Homo sapiens: one gene and its partners. The protein of the gene in region 3 purifies or fractionates together with the protein of the main gene of each other region. This does not show direct contact. Each region holds a gene or a part of one and is shown on either strand. Other genes may lie near its edges.

What was found. Proteins that work in one complex are often made in the same cells at the same time.
Region 1: the proteins of SRPK2 (region 3) and SNRPA purify together in Homo sapiens (affinity purification with mass spectrometry; 4 studies listed by BioGRID and IntAct, with this or other methods). This does not show direct contact.
Region 2: the proteins of SRPK2 (region 3) and SON purify together in Homo sapiens (affinity purification with mass spectrometry; 4 studies listed by BioGRID and IntAct, with this or other methods). This does not show direct contact.

The regions. Positions count from the first base shown.
Region 1 is NC_000019.10:40,746,797-40,754,207, reverse strand, and holds the start of SNRPA (U1 small nuclear ribonucleoprotein A), read right to left. Parts: upstream 3,006-7,411; 5' UTR 2,800-3,005; coding exon 2,727-2,799; intron 1-2,726. Other genes in the region: ACTMAP (actin maturation protease), read left to right, coding at 4,405-4,727. UniProt on the Homo sapiens protein: Component of the spliceosomal U1 snRNP, which is essential for recognition of the pre-mRNA 5' splice-site and the subsequent assembly of the spliceosome. U1 snRNP is the first snRNP to interact with pre-mRNA.
Region 2 is NC_000021.9:33,538,978-33,546,042, reverse strand, and holds the start of SON (protein SON), read right to left. Parts: upstream 3,006-7,065; 5' UTR 2,951-3,005; coding exon 2,874-2,950; intron 1-2,873. Other genes in the region: GART (trifunctional purine biosynthetic protein adenosine-3), read left to right, coding at 6,728-6,872. UniProt on the Homo sapiens protein: RNA-binding protein that acts as a mRNA splicing cofactor by promoting efficient splicing of transcripts that possess weak splice sites.
Region 3 is NC_000007.14:105,385,920-105,393,617, forward strand, and holds the start of SRPK2 (SRSF protein kinase 2), read right to left. Parts: upstream 3,003-7,698; 5' UTR 2,888-3,002; coding exon 2,872-2,887; intron 2,784-2,871; coding exon 2,729-2,783; intron 1-2,728. UniProt on the Homo sapiens protein: Serine/arginine-rich protein-specific kinase which specifically phosphorylates its substrates at serine residues located in regions rich in arginine/serine dipeptides, known as RS domains and is involved in the phosphorylation of SR splicing factors and the regulation of splicing.

The sequences.
Region 1 (7,411 bases), on a different chromosome or scaffold from region 3:
CACTTGAATTCGGGAGGCGGAGGTTGCAGTGAGCTGAGATCGCACCACTGCATTCCAGCCTGGGCAACAGAGCGACACTCCGTCTCATCTCAAAAAAAAAAAAAAAACGCCGGGCGCTGGGGCTGACGCCTGTAATCCCAGCACTTTTGGAGGCCAAGGTGGGCAGATCACGAGGTCAGGAAATCAACACCATCCTGGCTAACATGGTTAAACCCCTTCTCTACTAAATATACAAAAAATTAGCCGGGTGTGCTGGTGGGCGCCTGTAGTCCCAGCTACTCGGGAGGCTGAGGCAGGAGAATGGCGTGAACCCAGGAGGCAAGGCAGAGCTTGCAGTGAGCAGAGATGGTGCCACTGCACTCCAGCCTGGGCGACAGAGGAAGACTCCGTCTCAAAAATAAATAAATAAATAAAATAAGATTTAAAAACAAAAAACCAGGGTTCTATGTCACCAATGTGTCCCCAGCACTGCCCGATAATGGTTGGGCACCACACTCTAAAAACATATGCAGGCCGGGTGTGGTGGCTCACACCTGTAATCCCAGCACTTTGGGAGGCCGAGGTGGGCGGATCACCTAAGGTCAGGAGTTCGAGAAAAGCCTGGCCAACATGGTGAAACCCCGTCTCTACTAAAAATATAAAAATTAGCCAGGCGTGGTGGCGGGTGCCTGTAATTCCAGCTACTCGGGAGGCTGAGGCAGGAGAATCGCTTGAACCTGGGAGGCAGAGGTTGTAGTGAGCCAAGATCGTGCCACTGCACTCCAGCCTGGGTGACAGAGTGAAACTCTGCCTCAAAAAAAAAAAAAAAAAAAAAAAAAAAAAACATATGCAAAATTTACACTCCTGATTTTTTTTTTTTGAGACAGTCTCTATCACCCAGGCTGGAGTACAGTGGTGCGGTCTCAGCTCACTGCGACCTCTGCTTCCCAGGGTTCAAGTGATTCTCCTGCTCAGCCTCCCGAGTAGCTGGGACTGTAGGTGCGCACCGCCACATCCAGCTGATTTTTGTATTTTCAGTAGAGACGGGGTTTCACCATCTTGGCCAGACTGGTCTTGAACTCCTGACCTCAAATGATCTGCCCACCTCAGCCTCCCAAAGTGCTGAGATTACAGGCGTGAGCCAGTGCCCGGCTGCTGGTTTTGCTTTCTTCAACAGCAACTTCACTGGTAACCTCAAACTGAATCCCAACAAGCTCCTTCGGTTCTCCCGATAATTTTCTTGAAGTGATAAGAGCTAACATTTATCCAGCCCTTTACTAGCTGCCAGTTACCATAAAAAAGAAATACTGCAAGGTTTAGCTAATTTAATCTCCCCCAACATCCATGCAAAAAAGGTATTATGATTTTGCTCAGTTTTTAGATCTGGAAAATGAGGTTCAATAAAGGTGATAATTTACTTGAGAATGTGAGAGAGTCTTTCCGATTTCAATAATTGAGTTCTTTTTTTTTTTCCTTTTTTCAGATAGGTTCTTGCTCAGCCCAGGCAGCAGTGCAGTGGTGCAATCATAGCTCACTGCAGCCTCAACCTCTCTAGCTCAAGCGATCCTCCCACTTCAGCCTCCCAAGTAGCTGGGACCACAGACGCACCCCACCCACGCCCAGCCTTTTTTTTTTTTTTTTTTTTTTTTGTAGAGAAAAGGTCTGGCTTTGTCGCCTAGGCTGATCTTGAACTCCTGTGTTTCAGTGATCCTCCTGCCTCAGCCTCCCAAAGTGTTGGGCTTACAGGCCTGAACCACCACGCCCGGCCAAAAATTGGGTTCCTAAGCAGAATTCTATACGGGTGGCCTCAACCACTTTACTTGCTATGTGACCCTGGGCAAGTCACATCACCCCTGTCTCAGTTTCTTTTTCTTTTCTTTCTTTTTTTTTTGAGACGGAGTTTCGCTCTTGTTGCCCAGGCTGTAGTTCAATGGCGCAATCTCGGCTCACTGCAACCTCCGTCTCCTGGGTTCAAGCAATTCTCCTGCCTCAGCCTCCCGAGTAGCTGGGATTATAGGCATGCGCCACCATGCCCGGCTAATTTTGTATTTTCAGTAGAGAAAGGGTTTCTCCATGTCGGTCAGGCTGGTCTCGAACTCCCGACCTCAGGTGATCCGCCCGCCTCGGCCTCCCAAAGTGCTGGGATTGATTACAGGGGTGAGCCACCGCGCCCGGCCCCAGTTTCTTAGTTGACGAATGGGAATAACAATAGCCTTCTTCCTACAAGATTGTTGTGAGAATTAAATGTTATCAAGATTTATATGAAAGCACACAGACCAGCCCATGATACAGAGCGTTAGCCACCATTATGGTACATGTTCATTGTGGGCTGATCACTGAAAAAGCCGGTGACCAAGAAAGCCCCAGTCCTTGCCCTCACGGAGTTCAAAGGCCACTGGGAGGAGAGAGAGCCCCACGACAGCTCAGAGGAATCAGGGCTTGATGGGAGATGGTCTCAGCGTACGGCAAGTCAGCGGCAGCCACGTGAAGGGACAAGGCAAGGCTTCCTGGAGGAAGGGTCCTGTGACCTCAAACCTTGTAAGATGAGCAGCAGTGACCACGTTAAAGGGCAGAGTGTAAGATGAACTAATGGAGTGTTGAAGACAGGAAGTAGTTTGTGTAAAGGCCAAGGAGTTAACTCGAAGTTTGGCTGGACAAACACTTAGAAAGAGAGGCGGGTGCAGGGGACGGAAGAGGGGCCAGCCCGTGCGGGACAGTCTGGACTCCGGACTATCCCGAGAACTCACCATCCTTCTTGATCTTCTCATTGAGGTTGTTGATATAAATAGTGTGGTTAGGGCGGGTCTCGGGAACTGCCATGGAGTGAAGTGTTGAGGTAAGTCTTAAAGGAGGAAAAACGTGACTTTAGCCCTGGGTTTCTCCAAATCCTTTGTCCCAACGTCGGCTGCTCAAGGATCTTCCTCCGAAAAGGAAGTCAGGTAAGGCGGGAGTAGGGGCAAGGACGGAGGCAAAGCGCGACAACAAAGCGTGCGTAGGACCCGCTTCTCCAGCCCGCGTGCGGAGAGAACTCTCGAGAGATTTACTACGACTTCCAGGATGCTCTACGCGACCCGGTGGGCGGAGCACCCTAAATGGCGATTCCCATTGGCCCAAGCATCCGAAGGGCCGTCCCGGAGAAAAAACCCGGATGTGGGAGCCAGTATAGAAAAAAGGGACAGGTCCTAGGCAGCCTGGCCTCGAGCAGCAAGTTTCCTCAGACGGGCCCAGGAAGGCCCGGACGCCAAGCGTACCGCTCGCCTGCCGCCGATGGTCGTTTGCACCGGAGGTTACCTTCCGACAGGGCCGTAGTTCTCTCAACCGGCGCCTGCTACTTCCCTGAGACCAAACCACAAAGCTTTCTCTCCTGGCCCCGCCTCTGCCTTTCTGCCAGCCAATCGCCGCGCGGAAACGCAGTAGCTTGACCAATCAGAGCAAGTCTCGTTTCTGGGCTCAGCTGTTGCCAATCAAAACGATATTTGGGTTCCCGCCTAGGTAGAAAAACCCCGCCCCACTCCCTGAAAGCCCACCTCCTTCCGTGGCGCCCGGGTCTACGGACCAATCAGTGAAGGTCACGAGTCTGTACGCGTCTCGCGCTGCGGTGTCTTCCGGAGGCAATCCTTTTTGGAGTCCCGCCTCTTACCCCCGCCAGAGCTGCGTTTTCTGTCACGTGATCGCAAAATGGGCGGGAACTGTTGCGTGTAATACCACGTGATATGGGAAAGGCAGTGTGCGGGGGCCGCCATTTTCCGGGAGTGGGAGGTGCACTTTACTTCCTGACTCCTTTCCTTTTTCCAGTGGTTATCGCGGCGCCCACCGGCCTCTGATCTCTGAGTCTTCTCCAACCCACAGACGTTTTTTGTTGCTCTGGTTCCAGGACCTTCTCCACAACTAGGCCATTTTCCCTGCCAGGTGTCCTTTTTGACCTCTTGACCTCTGACTCAAAGGTCAGCTCAAAGGTTCCGAACTCGGGCCTGGGATGTGAGGGGGTACTGAACCTAAGTTCTCCGAATCTTTAGCCCTGGGTCCCTAAGTCGCATCCTTAAGGCACCTCACTCTAGATCTGAGCCTTCATATCCCAAACTCACTCATGAGTTTCCACATCCAGCCCCAAAGAATGAGTTAACTCCTACTAACTCTCCACCTAAGACTCCCGAGGTAACCCAACCGGTACCACAGATCCGGTTCCGGATTTAAGGACCCCACCCTGTTAACCGTCAGGTGCCTTATGACTTGAGTCAGCCTCGCAATTCCTGCTCCCGTGGTTTCAAATATTAGCCCTGGTCCTTTCACACCCACTGCTCAGTCCCCAGATTCTGGAACTCAGCTCTTAAACCTTTAAAATCTCCATCCCTGAGACCGTTCTCCGTTGGAGGATCCTTCCCTCCCCGCTTTCTGAACCTCTCAACACCTCCTGTAGACCCCAAAATGACTTCTCCATGCTCTCCTCCCCTAAAACCACCAATTTCTCCTCCAAAAACCCCTGTACCCCAAGCCAGCAGCATTCCATCTCCTCCTCTACCCCCAAGTCCCCTGGACTTTTCAGCTTTACCATCCCCTCCCTGGAGTCAGCAGACCCCTGTTCCCCCACCGCTCCCACTGCCTCCTCCACCCGCTGCCACAGGGCCTGCTCCCCGTCATGTCTTCGGCCTGGAGAAGAGCCAGCTCCTGAAGGAGGCCTTTGATAAGGCCGGCCCGGTCCCCAAGGGCAGAGAAGATGTGAAGAGGCTTCTGAAACTACACAAGGACCGGTAGGGTCTCCATGCCCCACCCACCACCCAGGCTCTGCCCTAGACACTTCACAGATCTCTTGGGGTGGGGGGGGGGTTCCCGTGTCCTCAAGATCAAACAGGCTGACTACTTAGGTCCCCCACCTAGATCTCTTCCATGGTGGTGTGCCTCCAGCAATGAAGAAAGCTGTCCTCACAAGTGCCCAGTCCAGTCCGGGTGCTTTGGCTCATGCATGTAATCCCAGCACTTTGGGAGGCCGAGGCGGGTGGATCACCTGAGGTCAGGAGTTGGAGACCTGCCTGACCAATATGGTGAAACCGCATCTCTATTAAAAATACAAAAATTAGCCAGGTGTGGTGGCATGCAACTGTAGTCCCAGCTACTCGGGAGGCTGAGGCGGGAGAATCGCTTGAACCCTGGAGGCAGAGGTTGCAGTGAGCCAAAATTGCGCCACTGCACTCCAGCCTGGAAGACAGAGCAAGACTCTGTCTCAAAAAAAAAAAAAAAAAAAAAAAAGAGCAAATGCCCAGTCTAGTGAGAGAGACAGATCCCTCCACCTTTCCAGACAGTGACAACCCAGAGTGGTCAGGGCTGTCATGACAAAGCCCAGAGGGGTGTCTGACCCAGGCTGGGGAGTCAGGGGGAGCTTCTTGGAGAAGGGGAACCCTGAGTGCTGTTGAGCAAGTCGTGCAAATGCTGTGTGATGAGAGTATACAGCTTGCGCAGGGGCCTGGAGTGAAATGAGGACATGTTCTATTCAAGGAACTGCAAATATGTCCTTAACTTGCCGGGGGAAGTGGCAAACATGGGGCTGTGAAAGCGGCAGAGCCAGCCCACGCAGGACAGAGCGGGTCGTGCAAAGGGACTGAGACTTTCCTGAGGGCACGGGGGAGCCCTGGAGAGGCTCTGTGCAGAAAAGGAGGCTGCCTGTGGAAGTGGTACTTAGGAGCCTTGAGGAAACTGGGACATCCAGGGACCCAGGTGGGAGGGGAAAGGAGAGTGCCAGACCTAGGCTGGGGCCCTGAGGCTGAGGTTTAGTGATTGCCTGGCTGAAGAAAAGAGGGAGAAGCGACTTGCCAGGACTCACATTGAAACTCCAAGCTTTCCAGACACTTTTTTTTTTTAATGGAGTTTCCCTCTTTCATCCAGGCTGGAGTGAACTGGCGCCCACCACCACGCCCAGCTAATTTTTGTAATTTTAGTAGAGACAGGGTTTGTCATGTTGGCCAGGCTGGTCTCGAACTCCCAACCTCAGGTGATCCACCTGCCTCAGCCTCCCAAAGTGGTGGGATTACAGGCGTGAGCCACTGGGCCTGGCCTCCGGACACATTTATAACCTTCCCTAAATGCCCCCACTGAGATGAGGCAAATTTAATGCAAATTACAGCCACCTTTTACTGAATGCCTTACCCTATGTCAGGCGCTGTTGTGTTTAAATATTAATTTACTGAATCCTCTCAACAACCCCATGAGGTAGAAACTTTTATTGTCTCATTTTCCTGGTGAGAAAACTGAGGCTCATAGAAGTGAAGCCCCTTAGCTATAATGCCCCTTAGCTATAGTGCAGAAAGAGGAAGAGTCCAATTTGAACTCTGGCGGCAGGGCTCCAAGCTGTTTGTTTGTTTGTTTGTTTTTGGGACAGGGTCTTGCTCTGTTGCCCAGGATGGAATGCAGTAGCTGGATCACAGCTCACTGCAGCCCCAACCTCCCAGGCTCAAGTGATCCTCCCATCTCAGCCTCCAAAATAGCTGGGACCACAGATGTGCGCCACCATGCCCGGCTAGTTTTTTGTACATATATATTTTTTTGTAGATATAGAGTCTTGCTGTGTTGCCCAGGCTGGGTCTTGAATTCTTGGGCCCAAGCGATCTTCTTGTCTCGACCACCCAAAGTGCTGGAATTACAGGCGTTAGCCACCGCACCCAGCCTGGCTCCATGCTTATTTATTTATTTATTTATTTAGAGATGGAGTTTCGCTCTTATTGCCCAGACTGGAGTGCAGTGGCATGATCTCAGCTCACTGCAACCTCTGCCTCCCGGGTTCAAGCGATTCTTCTGCCTCGGCCTCCTGAGTAGCTGGGATTACAGGTGCCCACCACCACGCCTGGCTAATTTTTTGTATTTTTAGTAGAGACGGGCTGTCGTCTTGTTGGCCAGGCTGGTCTCGAACTCCTGACCTCAGGTGATCCACCTGCTTCAGCCTCCCAAAGTGCTGGGATTACAGGCGTGAGCTGCTGCACCCGGCCTCCATGCTTTTAATCATACTTATGTGGTATCATCTTTCATCAGGAGGGTACCCTAAACTAGGAACCAGGAGCTCTGAGTCCGCACCCCCCCAACACCCAAACCGAACCTTGCCTTCTTACCAGCCTTGGAATAGGAATAATAAGCATGGGCCGGGCACGGTGGCTCATGCCTATAATCCCAGCACTTTGGGAGGCCAAGGCAGGCAGATCACCTGAGGCCAGGAGTTTGAGACTAGCCTGGCCAACATGGCAAAACCCTGTCTCTACCAAAAATATAAAAATTAGCCGGAAATGGTGGCACACACCTGTAATTCTAGCTACTCGGGAGGCTGAAGCAGGAGAATTGCTTGAACCCAGGAGGTGGAGGTGGCAGTGAGCCAAGATCGCACCACTGTACTCCAGCCCGGGCGACAGAGCAAGACTGCATCTCAACAAAAAAAAGGAGGCCGGGCATGGTG
Region 2 (7,065 bases), on a different chromosome or scaffold from region 3:
GGACATTTCATTTTTATACAATTAAAGTTTTCAGAACTATGAAAATTAAGAAAACAGGTTTCTAAGTACACTCTTTGTTAAACAAAATAATTTCAGAAATCTAACTTTAGGCTTTTGGGATACCCACATATTTCTTTCAGGGGAGAAAAATTAATAAGAGCCCGGTCACAAATCAAAAGAAAAACATGTGGCCTAACATTATGGTAGAAACCATGGCTACATTAAAGCCACAGCTGTGCATAAATCACAATCACCATCAATAGTATCAAGGAACACAAAAGTTAGCCACAGGCACACTGAATAAAAAGGGTAACCTGTAACCTCTGTCCAGGCTTACATTGCTACTGAAATGCCACTGAACTTAAAAAGGAAAATAATTTATGTAATTTTTACACAATTATCAAGAACTCTGGTTTATAAAACTCACATAAAACAAGTGGCATTTATACCAACAGTAAAAGCATAGATGGCTTAACACATGTTCCATTCACAGGGCCAGAGAAATTTTTAAATAGGTAAGAACATATCATTCGCCCAGTAATTTTTACTATTTTTGTGTGAATTTGCAAAATTTTGAAAAATCAAATACTTTCAGCAACAGTTTGATTTTAACTTCAATTTTAGCTAAATGAAAACACATCAATTATGCTCCACTACCTGATAAAAGTCTGAATGGTCAAAAACCAAAAAAAATTCAGTAGTTACCTAATTATTATTAAGGAACATCTGGCTTTCTAATACAATGAATTGTATAATTATAGTTATAATAATTATCATTTATTGACTACTAGTGTCATACTGTTCTACATTAACTCATTTAATCCTAACAAAACTCTGAGATCACCACTATTATTCTTTTATAAATGAAGAAACTTAGCTGAAGGTCACACAGCTACTAAGAGGTGAAGCTGGTACTCAAACCAGAGGCCATATTCTTACACACCATCTATAACAGAAGTTCGATAACTTGTTTTAACTATCTAAATGTCAGCCTCATTACTCTAATTTACATAAAAGCAGATGAGAAAAAAAACAGCTCACTGAAATGGCAAATAATCAAAAACTTGTTTGCAGACTGATAACGCATTATGTGTTGAAGAGAAGCTGCATATTCCTCTAGTAATAAACTGCTTCGTCTAATATTATTTTTAGATATTCCTTCTGTAGCACTTTATTTTACAATTTTCCTAAGCATTTATACATAATTATGACAAATTTGAAAATCAGAAAAGTAATTATGGTTTTAAAAGTTAATCTACAAGGAAGTAATGATTTCATCTTAAAGCCAGCAATCGTTAACCGCATTTACTGAAAAGCAATGAAAATTTCAAACCACCTAAATATGCAACAGTATATTCCTACAATGGGATTCTATGCAGCCATGAAGAAGTCCAAAAGACTGAGACTGAGAGGGATAAACCTGTTCACAACGTATTAGCTGGAAAAATGATCAATACAAAACAAGATGATCACATATCACACAATACATGGGGGGGGAAATGAAATGACATGAGAATATCAATAACGTGAGTTTTTTCTTTTCTCCTTTTTCATGTCTTCTAAATTATAATAAAACGCTCATTTTCTAAAGGAAAGACTAGCTTTTAAAAGCTACAAAAACACACCTCGTTAAACTAAGCAAACAACTACTTATTGCAGCCAGAGATTTGTCAGGAAAATTATATTCTCTTAGCTCGGGTCTCTTCTCATCCAAAACACTACTAGCAATATCACAAAAATTTAAAAAGCAATGTGAGTGGATCTATTTCCACTTAAAAAACAACACATTCTGCAAAAGTGATAATTCTAGCAATAATACATCATTGCCCTAATAATCCTGTATTACTTTGGGCACTTACAACTGGTTTTCGGCCCATTTTCAAATTCACGTACTGCTCTTGCTCTCAACTTTTAAAATACAATTAAAAACACTTGAACTCGGAACACTTACGTTTCAAGATCTCTTTCCTACTTCTGTACTTTAAAGAAATGAGTATCTTATACAAAAGCAAATATCGAGAGACAACCGCTGAACATGACACACTATTTTCCTAAGTAAACAACCATTTCTTTAACAATCTCTTCGCCTTCAAATTTTGTGAAGCCAAGCGCAAATTATGTAAAGTCTACCAGCAATGACAAAAATAGCGTGTCAACTGGGGCAGGGGTAGCAAGAAAATAATAGACCTACACACAAAGTCCACTTTCACTTGCTGTAATTAATCGCAACCATTTCAAAGTCCCCTTCCATCTTTATCTCGAGTATTTTAACAAACTAGCAAGTGCATCAGTTTGAGTTCGTTTTAATTGAAACATTTAACTATCAGAACGGCTGACAGATACTACAGGACACTAGGCCCCGAATAATCTTATTAATAGATCCAGACCCCCAAGCGGTCTGAAGCTCGCAATAATAAAGAGGATTTAAGATTAACCAAGAAACGGCCGTTAGAGACCCTTTCCGGTCATAGGCACCGGCCGGCAAAATCCGCGGAGGCGAGAGGGGGAGGGGATACGCGGCGGCGGAGGAGGAGCTGAGGAAGGAACTAGGCCCGTCCCTGGCGGACAACCGGGCCTACGAGTAGCTAAACGGCAGGGGGGACCCAAACAGGGGAGAAGGGTGAACATCTTAACTCGGTTCTGAAACAGGGAGTCTTGGGTTACCTCGGAAAAGGCGAAGTTCCTCGAGGGAAAAGGAAGGGAGCGGCTGGGGGGGCGGTTGGGGGGGGCCCGGAAAATGGATCCCAGGCCCAGGCGGGGCCCTAGCGGGGCCTGAGCCGGGGAACGACTGCGTCTCCGAAGAAAGGTGCCAAAGAAGGCTAGGTGAGGGCCTAACGGTCCGTTGGGAGCAGAAGAATCTGGGAGGCGTTTACCTGGAAAGCTCCTGTTGAATTTCCCGGAATTTACTGACCACGAAAGACCTAAAAATCTGCTCGATGTTGGTCGCCATGGCGTCCGCTCCGTTCTCTCAACTCCTCCTCGCTAGTCCTCCAGGCTCCCAGCATGCCTCGGGAGGAGGCGCACGGGCCAATTCGGTCTCTCGCCTTCCTGATTGGCTCCAAAGGGAATGCCCGGTCCGGCCCGCTCCACCGAGGGACCAATCAGTGAGCACGGCCCTGCTCTCCTCTGCTGTTTCTGAGCGGCTGGGGTAGAGGTGCTGACGTTTGCGCCGCGCACGACTATGTCCGCCATGTTAGTGTCTGACGCAGGCGCCATTACAGGAGCCGTCTCTCTTGAGGCGACCGTGTCCGCATAAGTTGTCAGTCCCCAGCAGTGTTTGGGAGCCTTAACAGGCTTGCTAAGTGCCTGAGATTAAAGGCGAAGAGGAAGAAGAGCAAGAAGGGCAACCCGGTGTTTAACACACGGCTTTCAGGCGCTCTCAGGTGGCGCCAAGTTCAGTTTCGACAGGGATATGCATCCGGGAGAGAATTTTTCAGCCCCCGCCCCCACTGGCATGTGAGAGGAGGAACTCGCTGTTGCCCTGTGTCTTCCCCAGTGCGTTCTATAACCAGCCTCATTTTTTTTTTTAGCAATAGGCCGGATGTCCTAAGCGACCGGCATTCAAAGCCCGGTGCATTTTAGTCTCATCAGGAGTCAGGCGTGTCACGAGATTTTTCCGCGGTAGCTGCTCAGCTCTGACTCGTGAGCGGCGCACAATTGGCTAAGAATGGGTTTAGCATTTTGGCGCTCCCCCCCGGCGCTCCTGGAAACACTGCGTGGCACCCCGTACCACTGTCACATTATAAACGTGCTAAGGCTTGGGTGTCTCGGCTGGGGAGCAGTCAGGCAGCGCCCAGGGCGGGAGGGAATCAGACTAGATTCTCGCCGCGGAGACCCAGGGCCGCGCGGACCAATGGGGCAGGGAAGCCGTCGTAGGGCGGGGCAGTGAGGGGCGGTGCCGCGCTGGTCCCGCGCCGGTCCCGGTGGGCCGACTTCCGGCGAGCGGGCAAGCGGGAACCAGGTGGCCACCCGGTGTCGGTGCGTAAACCCCCTCCGCTTTTACACGGAGCGCGCTTAGGCTTTGGTTTGGGGATTTAAGATCGCGAACTGAGTGAAACCATAGAAACTGATTTGTAGAAATTTTCCTGTTGTTTGTAAATGCGGTGGGTGGGGGTTGGCCATGTGCTTTTCACTTGCTACTGTTAGCTGGTTTCTATTTGCTCTTTTACTTTTCCTGTTTTCTAAGATGTCAAGGCCTTTTTGTGTCTTTATACATTTTTAGGACATAACCCTAAATTGGTGTACTTTCTCTTTATGCACCCGTTGTCTCTGGCAGATTACTTGGTTAATTTTGTAGTTGGTTTCTACTTTATTCTCCATATCCTCTGATACGGCTTTATTTGCCTGTCTTATTCTGCTTATGTTACCCATTCTGAGGAATGAGGCCCAAGGTTAGTGAAGTCCCCCAAGGTCTTCCTGCTAGTATGGGGCAGCGTCTCTACCCAGGCCAAGGCGCTGTGTGAGACTCAGGAGCCCAGGCGTCCTCACCACTGGGTAGTAAGGCTATTTTCAGTGATCCACTAGAGTAAACAGAATTTTCCCACACTACTGCTATATTCAAACTAAAGATGTAACATTTGCTCTAGATTTAAAGATCTGTTTATTTCTGGCCGGATGTGATGTAATCCCAGCACTTGGGAGGCCAAGGTGGGTTGACCATTGGAGGTCAGGAGTTCGAGACCAGCCTGGCCAACGTAGTGAAACCCCGTCGCTACTAAAAATACAAAAATTCGCCTGGCGTGGCGGCGCACGCCCGTAATCCCAGCTACTTGGGAGGCTGTGAGGCAAGAGAATCGCTTGAACCCGGGAGGCGGAGGTTGTAGTGAGCTGAGATCACACCACTGCCCTCCAGCCTGGGCGACAGAGAGAGACTGTCTAAACAAATAAATAAATAAATAAAATAAAAAATCTGTTTATTTCAGATACACATGGCAAGTAAAATGTGTTTTCCCGTTACACTAAAGTAGCTGTTCCTTCCGAGACTGTAATTTAACAGGGTTTTTTTTTTTCCTTTCTCAAATTTTCAATGATCATCGTTTCACTTGTTGAGAGAATCTGAAGCAAAATTGCTTCTGTTAGGCTCCACCCCCTCTTACCTGTGTGACCTCCAGCAAGTTATTTACCTATCTGGGCCTCCTTGTCTTATCTGCAAATTGGTGATAGTAATAGTATCTCCCTCATAGGATTCTTTCATGACAAGCATTTTAAATAGTACCCTGCCCAAGGTTAAGTGCTCAAAAAAATGTTAGTTTTGTATATTGTCAGCTTACATTTTTCTTAAAATATGTAATCCCAACATCATCAAAATAAGTTTTCAATTTTCTTTTTCCTGTTACCAGTTTGTCTTGTGGTAAGTAAATGTAACAAGTTAACATTTACTACTGCTGAGTGCCAGATTGTACTTATTTATAAATGTCATTTCAGTTAATCTCCTAGGTTACACTGCTGTTGTATCCATCCTTCTAAGTCTCAGGTGCCAGAACTAAAGTGAAATGAGTTGGAATTTGATTTTTGCCTTCTCTACCAATATTCTAGCATATTGCGCTATTTGAATTAGGAGTCAGCAAACTATGGCCCACATACCAAATCCTTCTGCTGCCTGCTTTTGTACAGCTCACCAAATATGAATGATTGAGAAAAAGAACAGGAAATAAATGAGGTTTTTGTGACATGTGAAAATTTTATGAAATTCAAATTATAGTATCCGTACATAAAGTTTTATTGAAAGCGAGTCACGTTTATTTGTTACAAACCTTTGATGGTTTCCTGCTACTTAAAGTACTGATAGGCAACAGTGATCTCTGACCCACTGCCTGTTTATGGGTCCATTAAATTTTTCTGGACATTGGCACATTGATTCATCTTCGTATTATCTTTGGTTGCTTTCCTGCTAAGGTGGCCGAGTCGAGTAGTTTTGACAGAACTATGTGGCCCTTTTTGTGTAAAGTTTGCTTACCCCAGTTTTCAGTATATCCTTTAATTTATGATAACCTAATTATCTGTAAGATTTCAAGGTTTAAAAATTGATATTTTATAATACATTTTGAGTCTAAAACAAGATTCATTTCATAACTAAGGCATGATGATTATTAAATCTTTTTGAAGTGAAGCCCAGAGAAGGGAGATTATCACATAAGGAGCTGAGAGTCATCGTTTGACTCCTTAACCTAGCTCTCTAGGCCAGCCTGCCTTCTTTTTGAAATACCTCCCTTATGCTTATGACGACAGTCATATTTCTCAAATTATGAATCCCAGTTTTTCAAAAATGAATCATTGGATGAAAATGTCATTTGTATGAGTACAAATGATTACTTAAATTATATTTACAAATCTGGATTTCTTTTTTTTTTTTGAGATGGTCTTGCTCTGTTTCCCAGGCTAGAGTGTAGTGACGTGATCCTGGCTCACTGCGATCTCCTCCTACCAGGTTCAAGCAATTCTCCTGCCTTGGCCTCCTGAGTACCTGGGATTACAGGCACCCGCCACCATGCCTGGCTAATTTTTGTATTTTAGTAGAGATGAGGTTTTGCCATGTTGGCCAAGGCTGGTCTCAAACTCCTGACCTCAAGTGATCCACCTGCCTCGGCCTCCCAAAATGCTGGGGGTACAGGCATGAGCCACTGTGCCCGTCCCTGGGTTTCTAAAATGTGCATCCTAAGATATAAACTGTGGTTTTCTTTCTGCAGGTTTCATTTTCCTTTGGAATTTCTGCTTTACAGACAGAACAATGGCAGCCCGAGTACTTATAATTGGCAGTGGAGGAAGGGAACATACGCTGGCCTGGAAACTTGCACAGTCTCATCATGTCAAACAAGTGTTGGTTGCCCCAGGAAACGCAGGCACTGCCTGCTCTGAAAAGATTTCAAATACCGGTAATCATGTTTTAAAGTGGGGAGTAATAGTTATTATTTGTTATTAATGGTATGCTGTCAACCATATCTGTACTTTATGTTAATAAAGATAGGCTGGGCACAGTGGCTAATGCCTGTAATCCCAGCACTTTGGGAGGCCGAGATATGCGGATCATGAGGTCAGGAGATGGAGACCATCCTGGCTAACATGGTG
Region 3 (7,698 bases):
TTCCTATCCCTTAGCCCTATCTGAAATTATCTTGTCACCCTCTTTGTGGTTTTCCCCAAACCTCCCAAGGTTAGCTTTGCAAGGAGCTTTGTCTTGTTCAAAACTCTATCACCGGCCGGGCTTGGTGGCTCACGCCTGTAATCCCAGCACTTTAGGAGGCCGAGGCGGGCGAATCACGAGGTCAGGAGATCGACACCATCCTGGCTAACACGGTGAAACCCCACCTCTACTAAAAATACAAAATATTAGCCGGGCGTGGTGGCGGGCGCCTGTAGTCCCAGCTACTCAGGAGGCTGAGGCAGGAGAATGGCGTGAATTCGGGAGGCGGAGCTTGCAGTGAGCCGAGATCGCGCCACTGCCCTCCAGCCTGGGCAACAGAGCAAGACTCGGTCTCAAAAAAAAAAAAAAAACAACCTCTAACACCATCTCCGAAGACAGACATGTAAATACCTATTGAAGACATGAATAAATAAATAACATCAAACAGTTCTTTTAAATAATATCTTGATTCAGGTCGGGCACGGTGGCTCACACCTGTAATCCCAGCTGTGTGGGAGGCCGAGGCCGGTGAATCACCTGAAGTCAGGAGTTGTAGACCAGCCCGGCCAACATGGTGAAACCCCGTCTCTACTAAAAAATACAAAAAAAATAGCTAGGCTTGGTGGCGGGTGCCTGTAATCCCAGCTACTCAGGAGGCTGAGGCAGGAGAATCCCTTGAACCTGGGAGGCGGAGGTTGCAGTGAGCCAAGATTGGGCCATTGCACTCCAGCCTGAGCGACAAGAGCGAAACTCTGCCTCAAAAAAATTATTAAATAAAATTATGACTTGATTCAAAGAGTTAAGTGAAAAATGGCAATGCCTCAATCAGTTATATAATTGGGCTGGTCCCGTTACCTTACAGACTAGAGCCAGTTCGTTTCATCATTAGCTGGTGTGTTATTTTCCCCCTCAAATTCTATCACATATACACAATACACAGTGGGAGAAACTGGCAGATTAATCTGTGAGAGGAAAAGCTGAGTACTGTGGCTATTCACTAAGTCTTCATCAACATACCACATAAATCCAAACTGCGGCCCACCAAAAAGGCCCTCGACCATTAGGAAAATCATACTCTAATATATGCAAATACAAGACACATATTGACTTAATTAGAACTGTTTTTCCACATGTACGTAAAGGTAACATGCACATATACGTGTCTATTTGTATATACATGCACACATAGCCATCTCCGACACTGGGGTCATACTTTTTCCACTTGTTTTTATGTTTCTGAGTATAACAGACTACGTGGAATTAAATCAATGCTTTGAATTAAGAGCTGTGATTAAAACACAGTACTTATTCAGAATCCTAAACATTACAGTTCTCCTTACCACTGGGTAAACTTCCATGGTTCACCAAAGGAAATCTCAAATTTAAGGTTGTAATTCACTTGAAAGCTAGCACTAATTTTTTTAAAAGCAACCAAAACTACCAAAAATCCAGTCCATTTTAACATCTTATGAATTCAATATCCAATTTTTACCGACCAATTAGTTCTTCAACTCTTTAGGAAGTGCTTTCCCCTTACTCTAATGGTTTTTTCTTTTTTTTTTTTTTTTAAGGTATTTTTAAGTCACTATCCACATTTTGTGAAACTGAAGGACCAAGGCCAACGAGAAGGGGAAAAAAGTGAGCGTGCTGCGACGTACCCCTCAAAGGAAACAACCAAAAATGTTTCTGGATTTTATTAAAGATAATGCTGGATTCTCGTTCCCCACAGTACCAAAGATGCCACACAGAGTATTCTTGCTCAAAAGAGCGAAGCAATTAATCTAGAGGAAGAGATAACGATGTCGAACGCTGGTAAATCAAAAAAATTAGGAGAGAGGAGTGGAAAAGGAGAAGACGCGGCGGCGCTGTGCGGTCTCGGAGCAGCTCTCCAGGAAAGGGTTCTTGGGCAGCGGCCCCCCTGCTCGGGTGAGCGGCCAGGCTGGAGGTGGCCGCCACGGGCGCGTTTTCCACTCCGACCGGCTCCCGCGCACACGCCCACCGCCCTGCGCAGCCCGCGACCCCGGCGCCCGCAGCGCACCCAAGTCACGCTCAACCCGAGCGGAAAGTTTCGAATCCAAACCCGAGAGCCGAAACGCACAGGTCTCGGGGCTGAACTCGCGCCAGGAACACGCCCGAGGCAAACCACTTGACAACCAGCTTAGGTTCTCAGCAGAAAGGCCGACAGGCGGGGGCCGGGGAGGAAGGGGAGGCGAGACACACGCCCTCCCGCACACTCGGCCCCTCCGCCTCCTCGGCCCGCGGCTCAGGTGGGAGCAACGCAGCCGCTGCACTCCCGCAGCGGGCGGGCCGGAGCCCAGCGGCAGACGCCGGGGCCCCTTCCGGAAAGGGCCGCGACCCCCGGGCCAGCTCGCGGGCAAGGGACGGGTGCGCACGCCCTGCCCGGCGCCTTTCCGCCGGCCTCCCGCCCGCCGGCCGGTGGCGACCCGGGGCGGGAGGTCGCGGGGTCGAGGCTCCGTGATGCTAGGGAACCGGCCGCGGCCCGCGCGCCCCTCCCCCGCCGCCGCCCCTCCCCCCGGGCCGCCCGCCGGGGGCAGGAGCCGAGCGCCAGCGTCCCGGGGGACCAGCCCGCCCGCCGGCCCGGGGACCCGGACAACTTTCCCCTGCGCGGCCGCGGGCGCCCCCGACGGGGCGGGGGTGGGGAACGGGGACAGGCGCAGCGTGGACTCACTTTTTCGGATGTTTCTCTCTTTTCGGCCTCCGCTTTCGGGCCTGAATGGCCAGCACTGGGGAAGAGAAGACACACATTAACGGTCGGGCCGCCCGCCCGGGCTGGCCGCGTGGCGGGGAGAGGGCGCGCCGCGGGCCACTCACCTTTCCGGGAGCTCATTCCGACGCGGCGGAAGCGGGGCGGGGGGCTTCGCGACGGCGACGCGGGCGCCGAGACGAGCTGGGCTGCAGCCTCCACTCGCTCCGCCGGCCGGGAGGAGACGAGAACCGCGCCTGCGCCGCCGCCGCCGCCGCCGCTCCAGCAGGGACCCAGCAAGACCCGCCCCCGTCCGGCCCCGCCCCCGCCCCGCCCCCACCCGCCGGCCCCGGGGGTCGGGACCCCAGCGCCGCGCGCCCAGCGCCCCGCGCCCCCGCCCCACCCACCTGTGCAGAAGTGGCCGCCGCCCATGGCCGCGCTGGCCCTCGGCCTCCCCCACCCCAGCCCGCGGCCCGGGCCTCCGCCTCCTGCGATCCTGCGGCTGGCCCAGGCCGCCCGCCTCTCCCGGGCACCGGACCCGCGGGACCCTCCCTCCCCGCCGCGGCCTCTCCCCTCCGCACCCCGGCCGGTCGCGCCGCCCGCTGCTCCATGCGCCCGTCCTTGGCCGGCGCCTCCGCGGGTCTCGCACCACCTCTCTTCCCGCGGCCTCTTCTCTCCCTTTGCTCCTCTACATCCTTGCAACCCCATGAGCGCCGCTTCCTCCTCTCCGGCAGGCGTGGAAAGGGCACACGACCAAAAGCTGGGAAACCTGGGTCCGCGATTAGCGGTGTGACCTTGGAGAAGTCATTTTCTCTCCCACCTCTAAGTGCCCTCCAGGATTGCATGAGTTTAATGAAGGAAAAGATACAGATAGCATTCAAGGTAGGACAAAGGTTTTGCACATGAATTGAAACTCGCTTCCGTAAACACCAGGTGTATAACAATTCAAAACAACAATCACACCAAGTAGTTATTTTCTGCATCCTACAATGAGGAAACTGAGTCCCAACGAGGTTAAAAAGTTTAACCAGCCAGGATCGAAATTCAGGCCTGGCCGTCGACAAACCACCTTATCAGGCTGCCTACAAAAGATGTGAATCAAGTTGATAGTGACACAAAAAGATAACTGCAATGTTCTCTTATTTATGTAAATAATTACAATAGTTTTTGAAAGATACGCATTCTGACTATTAACTCCCTCATTGGTCACACAACTGTATCTTTGACAAGGTGGCTTACACTAAGGATGATAAATCAGAACGGGAAACTCTGCTTGGATTTTGAAGAGTCCTTAACTTTTTATATTCAAAAAAATATCAAACCCTATAGAAAAGTTACAAGGAAAATACAATTAACAGCCAAATTAACCCATATTCACCAATTTTTAACATTCTGCCACATTTGCTATCTATGTGTCTGTGTGTATGGTTTATTTTGCTGAATCACTTGAGTTTTTGTAGACACTGTTACCCTTTATCCCTAAATATTTCAGTACATATCTACTAAGAATAAAGATAATCTCCCACATAATCAGAATTCCATGATCACTCCAAGAAACTTTCATACTAATACAATGTAATCATCTGTAACATACAGGCCATATATATTCAATTTTGCAAAATATCCCAGTAATATCCCTTGTCGCTGATTTTCTTTTTTTCCCAATTAGTCTACCATTAAGGATCATCCGTTGCATTTAATTGTCATGTCTTTTTAAACACCTTTAGTCTAGAATCATTCTTGGTTTTGTGTTTTGGTTTTCTTTCTATTTATTTATTTATTTTGAAATGGAGTCTCACTCTATCACCCAGGCTGGAGTGCAGTGGCGCAATCTCAGCTCACTGCAACCTCAGCCTCCCGGGTCCAAGCCATTCTCCTGCCTCAGTCTCCCGAGTAGCTGGGATTACAGGCATACACCACCACATCTAGTTAATTTTTGTTTTTGTTTTTTTTTTTTTTTTTTTTTTTTTAGTAGAGACAGGGTTTCACCCTATTGGCCAGGCTGGTCTCGAACTCCTGACCTCGGGTCATCCACCCACCTCAACCTCCCAAAGTGCTAGGATTACAGGCCTGAGCCTCGGCACCCAGCCTTTTTTTGTTTTGTTTTGTTTTGTTGTTTATAACATTGACTTTTTTGAAGAATCCAGTTCCACCATTTTGCAGAATGTTCCCTGTTTTGGATTTGTCTGTTTCCCTATGATTAGATTCAAGTTAAACAATTTTGTTGGCTATACTATAGATGATGTTGTATTCATCTTAGTGCATCAAAATATGATGTCAGTTTGTTCCATTACTGGTGATGTTACAGTTAATTATTTCTCCAAGATACAGGTACCTTTTCCCTCTGTATTTAAGAAGTCTGTATGAAAAATGAGCAAAGGATTTGAATGGACATTTCTCCAAAGACATGCAAATGACCAAACTAGCATGTGACAAGAGAATTAACATCATTAGTTGTTAGGAAAATACAAAGCAAAACTATAATGAGCTACTACTTCACACCTACTAGGATGACTATAAAATTTATTTATTTATTTATTTATTTATTTATTTATTTATTGAGATGGAATTTCGCTCTTGTTGCCCAGGCTGGAGTGCAATGGCACGATCTCAGCTCTTCGCAACCTCTGCCTCCCAGGTTCAAGTGATTCTCCTGCCTCAACCCTCCGAGTAGCTGGGATTACAGGCATGTGCTACCACGCCTGGCTAATTTTGTATTTTTAGTAGATCTGGGGTTTCTCCATGTTGGTCAGGATGGTATCGAACTCCCAACCTCAGGTGATCCACCTTCCTTGGCTTCCCAAAGTGCTGGGATTACAGGCATGAGCCACTGCGCCCGGCTAAAAATTTTTGTAATGGAAAATAAGGCCAAACGTGATGTCTCACAAGTGTAATCTCAGCATTTTGGAGGCTGAGGCTGGAGGATCATCTGAGTCCAGGAGTTGGCGGCTGCAGTGAACTATGATCGCACCACTGCACTCCAGCCTGGGCAACAGAGTGAGACCCCATCTCAAAAAAAAAATGTTAATGGAAAAAAAGTGTTGGTGGGGATTTTGGAACCCTCATATGTTGGAAACATTGAAACCCTCCTACATTTCTGGTGGGAATGTAAAATGGTGCAGTTATTATGGAAACAGTCTGTTGGCTTCTCAGAAAGCTAATTATAGAATTAACAGCAATTCCACTCCTAGGTATATATGCACAAGGACTGAAAACAGATACTCAAACAAATCTTTGTACATGAGTGTTCATAGCAGCGCTATCACAGCCAAAAGGTGGAAAAAACCTAAATGGTCATCCATAAATGAATGGATAAACAAATTGCGGTATATACATACACTGGAATATTTTTTTGGCCATAAAAAGAATTTAGTACTGACACATGCTACAATGTGGATGAACATCAAAAACATTATGCTAAATAAAAGCAGCCAGACACAAAATGTCACATATTGTATGATTCCATTTATATGAGATATCCAGAATAGGCAAATCTACAGAAAGCAGATTGGTGGTTGCCAGGAGTTGGGGGGTGGGAGAAGGAGGGAGCAACTGCTTAATGGGTACCAAGTTTTATTTTGGTGTGATGAAGATGTTTTGGTGCTAGATAGAGGTGGTGGTGGCACAACATTGCTAATAGACTAAAAGCCACTGAATTGTTCTCTTTAAAGTGGTTTCTTTCATTTAATGTGAATTTCACTTCAAAACAAAACAACAAAGTTACTTGTGTGGGGTGATACTTTGAAACTGTGTGAATATCTCTTCCCTGACAATATCTCAATGGGTTGGCATCCATTGATGATTCTTGCCTAAATCAACTATTACCACACTGGTTGTAGAACAGTGATTTTATAATCCTATCATTTTTGAGATGGGCATCTTGCTCTGTTGCCGAGGCTGGAGTGCAATGGTGTGATCTCAGCTCACTGTAACCTCCACTTCCCAGGTTCAAGTGATTTTCCCACCTCAGCCTCCCAAGTAGCTGGGACTACAGACGCACACCATTTGTATTTTTAGTAGACACGGGTTTTCACCATGTTGGCCAGGCTGGTCTGAAACTCTTGGCCTCAAGTGATCCACCTGCCTCTGCCTCCCTAAGTGCTGGGATTACAGGTGTGAACCACTATACCCAGACTTAAGTGATATTCTTTTTTTCTTTTTTTTTTTTGAGAGAGGGTCTTGCTCCGTCGCCCAGGCTGGAGTGCAGTGGTGTGATCTCCGCTCATTGCAACCTCCGCCTCCCAGGTTCAAACAATTCTCCTCCCTCAGCCTCCCAAGTAGCTGGGACTACAGGCATGTACCACCACACCCGGCTAATTTTTGTATTTTTTTTTTTTTGGTGGAGAGGGGAAGGGAAGTCTCGCTCTGTCGCCCAGGCTGGAGTGCAGTGGCGCGATCTTGGCCTAACGCAACCTCCGCCTTCCAGGCTCAAGTGATTCTCCTGCCTCAGCCTCCCAAGTACCTGGGATTACAGGCACCCGCCACCACTCCCGGCTAATTTTTTTGTATTTTTAGTAGAGACTAGGTTTCACCATGTTGGCCAGGCTGGTCTCAAACTCCTGACCTCAAGTGATCTGCCTGCCTCAGCCTCCCAAAGTGTTGGGATTGCAGGCTTGAGCCACCGCGTCCAGCCTAATTTTTGTATTTTTAGTGGAGATGGGGTTTTACCATGTTGGCCAGGCTGGTCTCAAACTCCTGACCTCAGGTGATCCGCCCACCTTGGCCTCCCAAACTGCTGGGATTAAAGGCGTGCACCACCGCATAAGGAGGAGCTTTTATTTCTCCCTCTGGTTTTTCTTTTTTTTTTTTTTTTTTTTTTTTCCCCTCCTGCTCCTCTGCCTTTTTTCTTTCTTTCTTTGTTTCTGGCTTGTTTTTTGTTTTTGGTATCAATATTGACAAAAATTACTGTCACTATTTTTTTGTTGTTTTCAGAGGACAGGGTCTCACTCTATGGA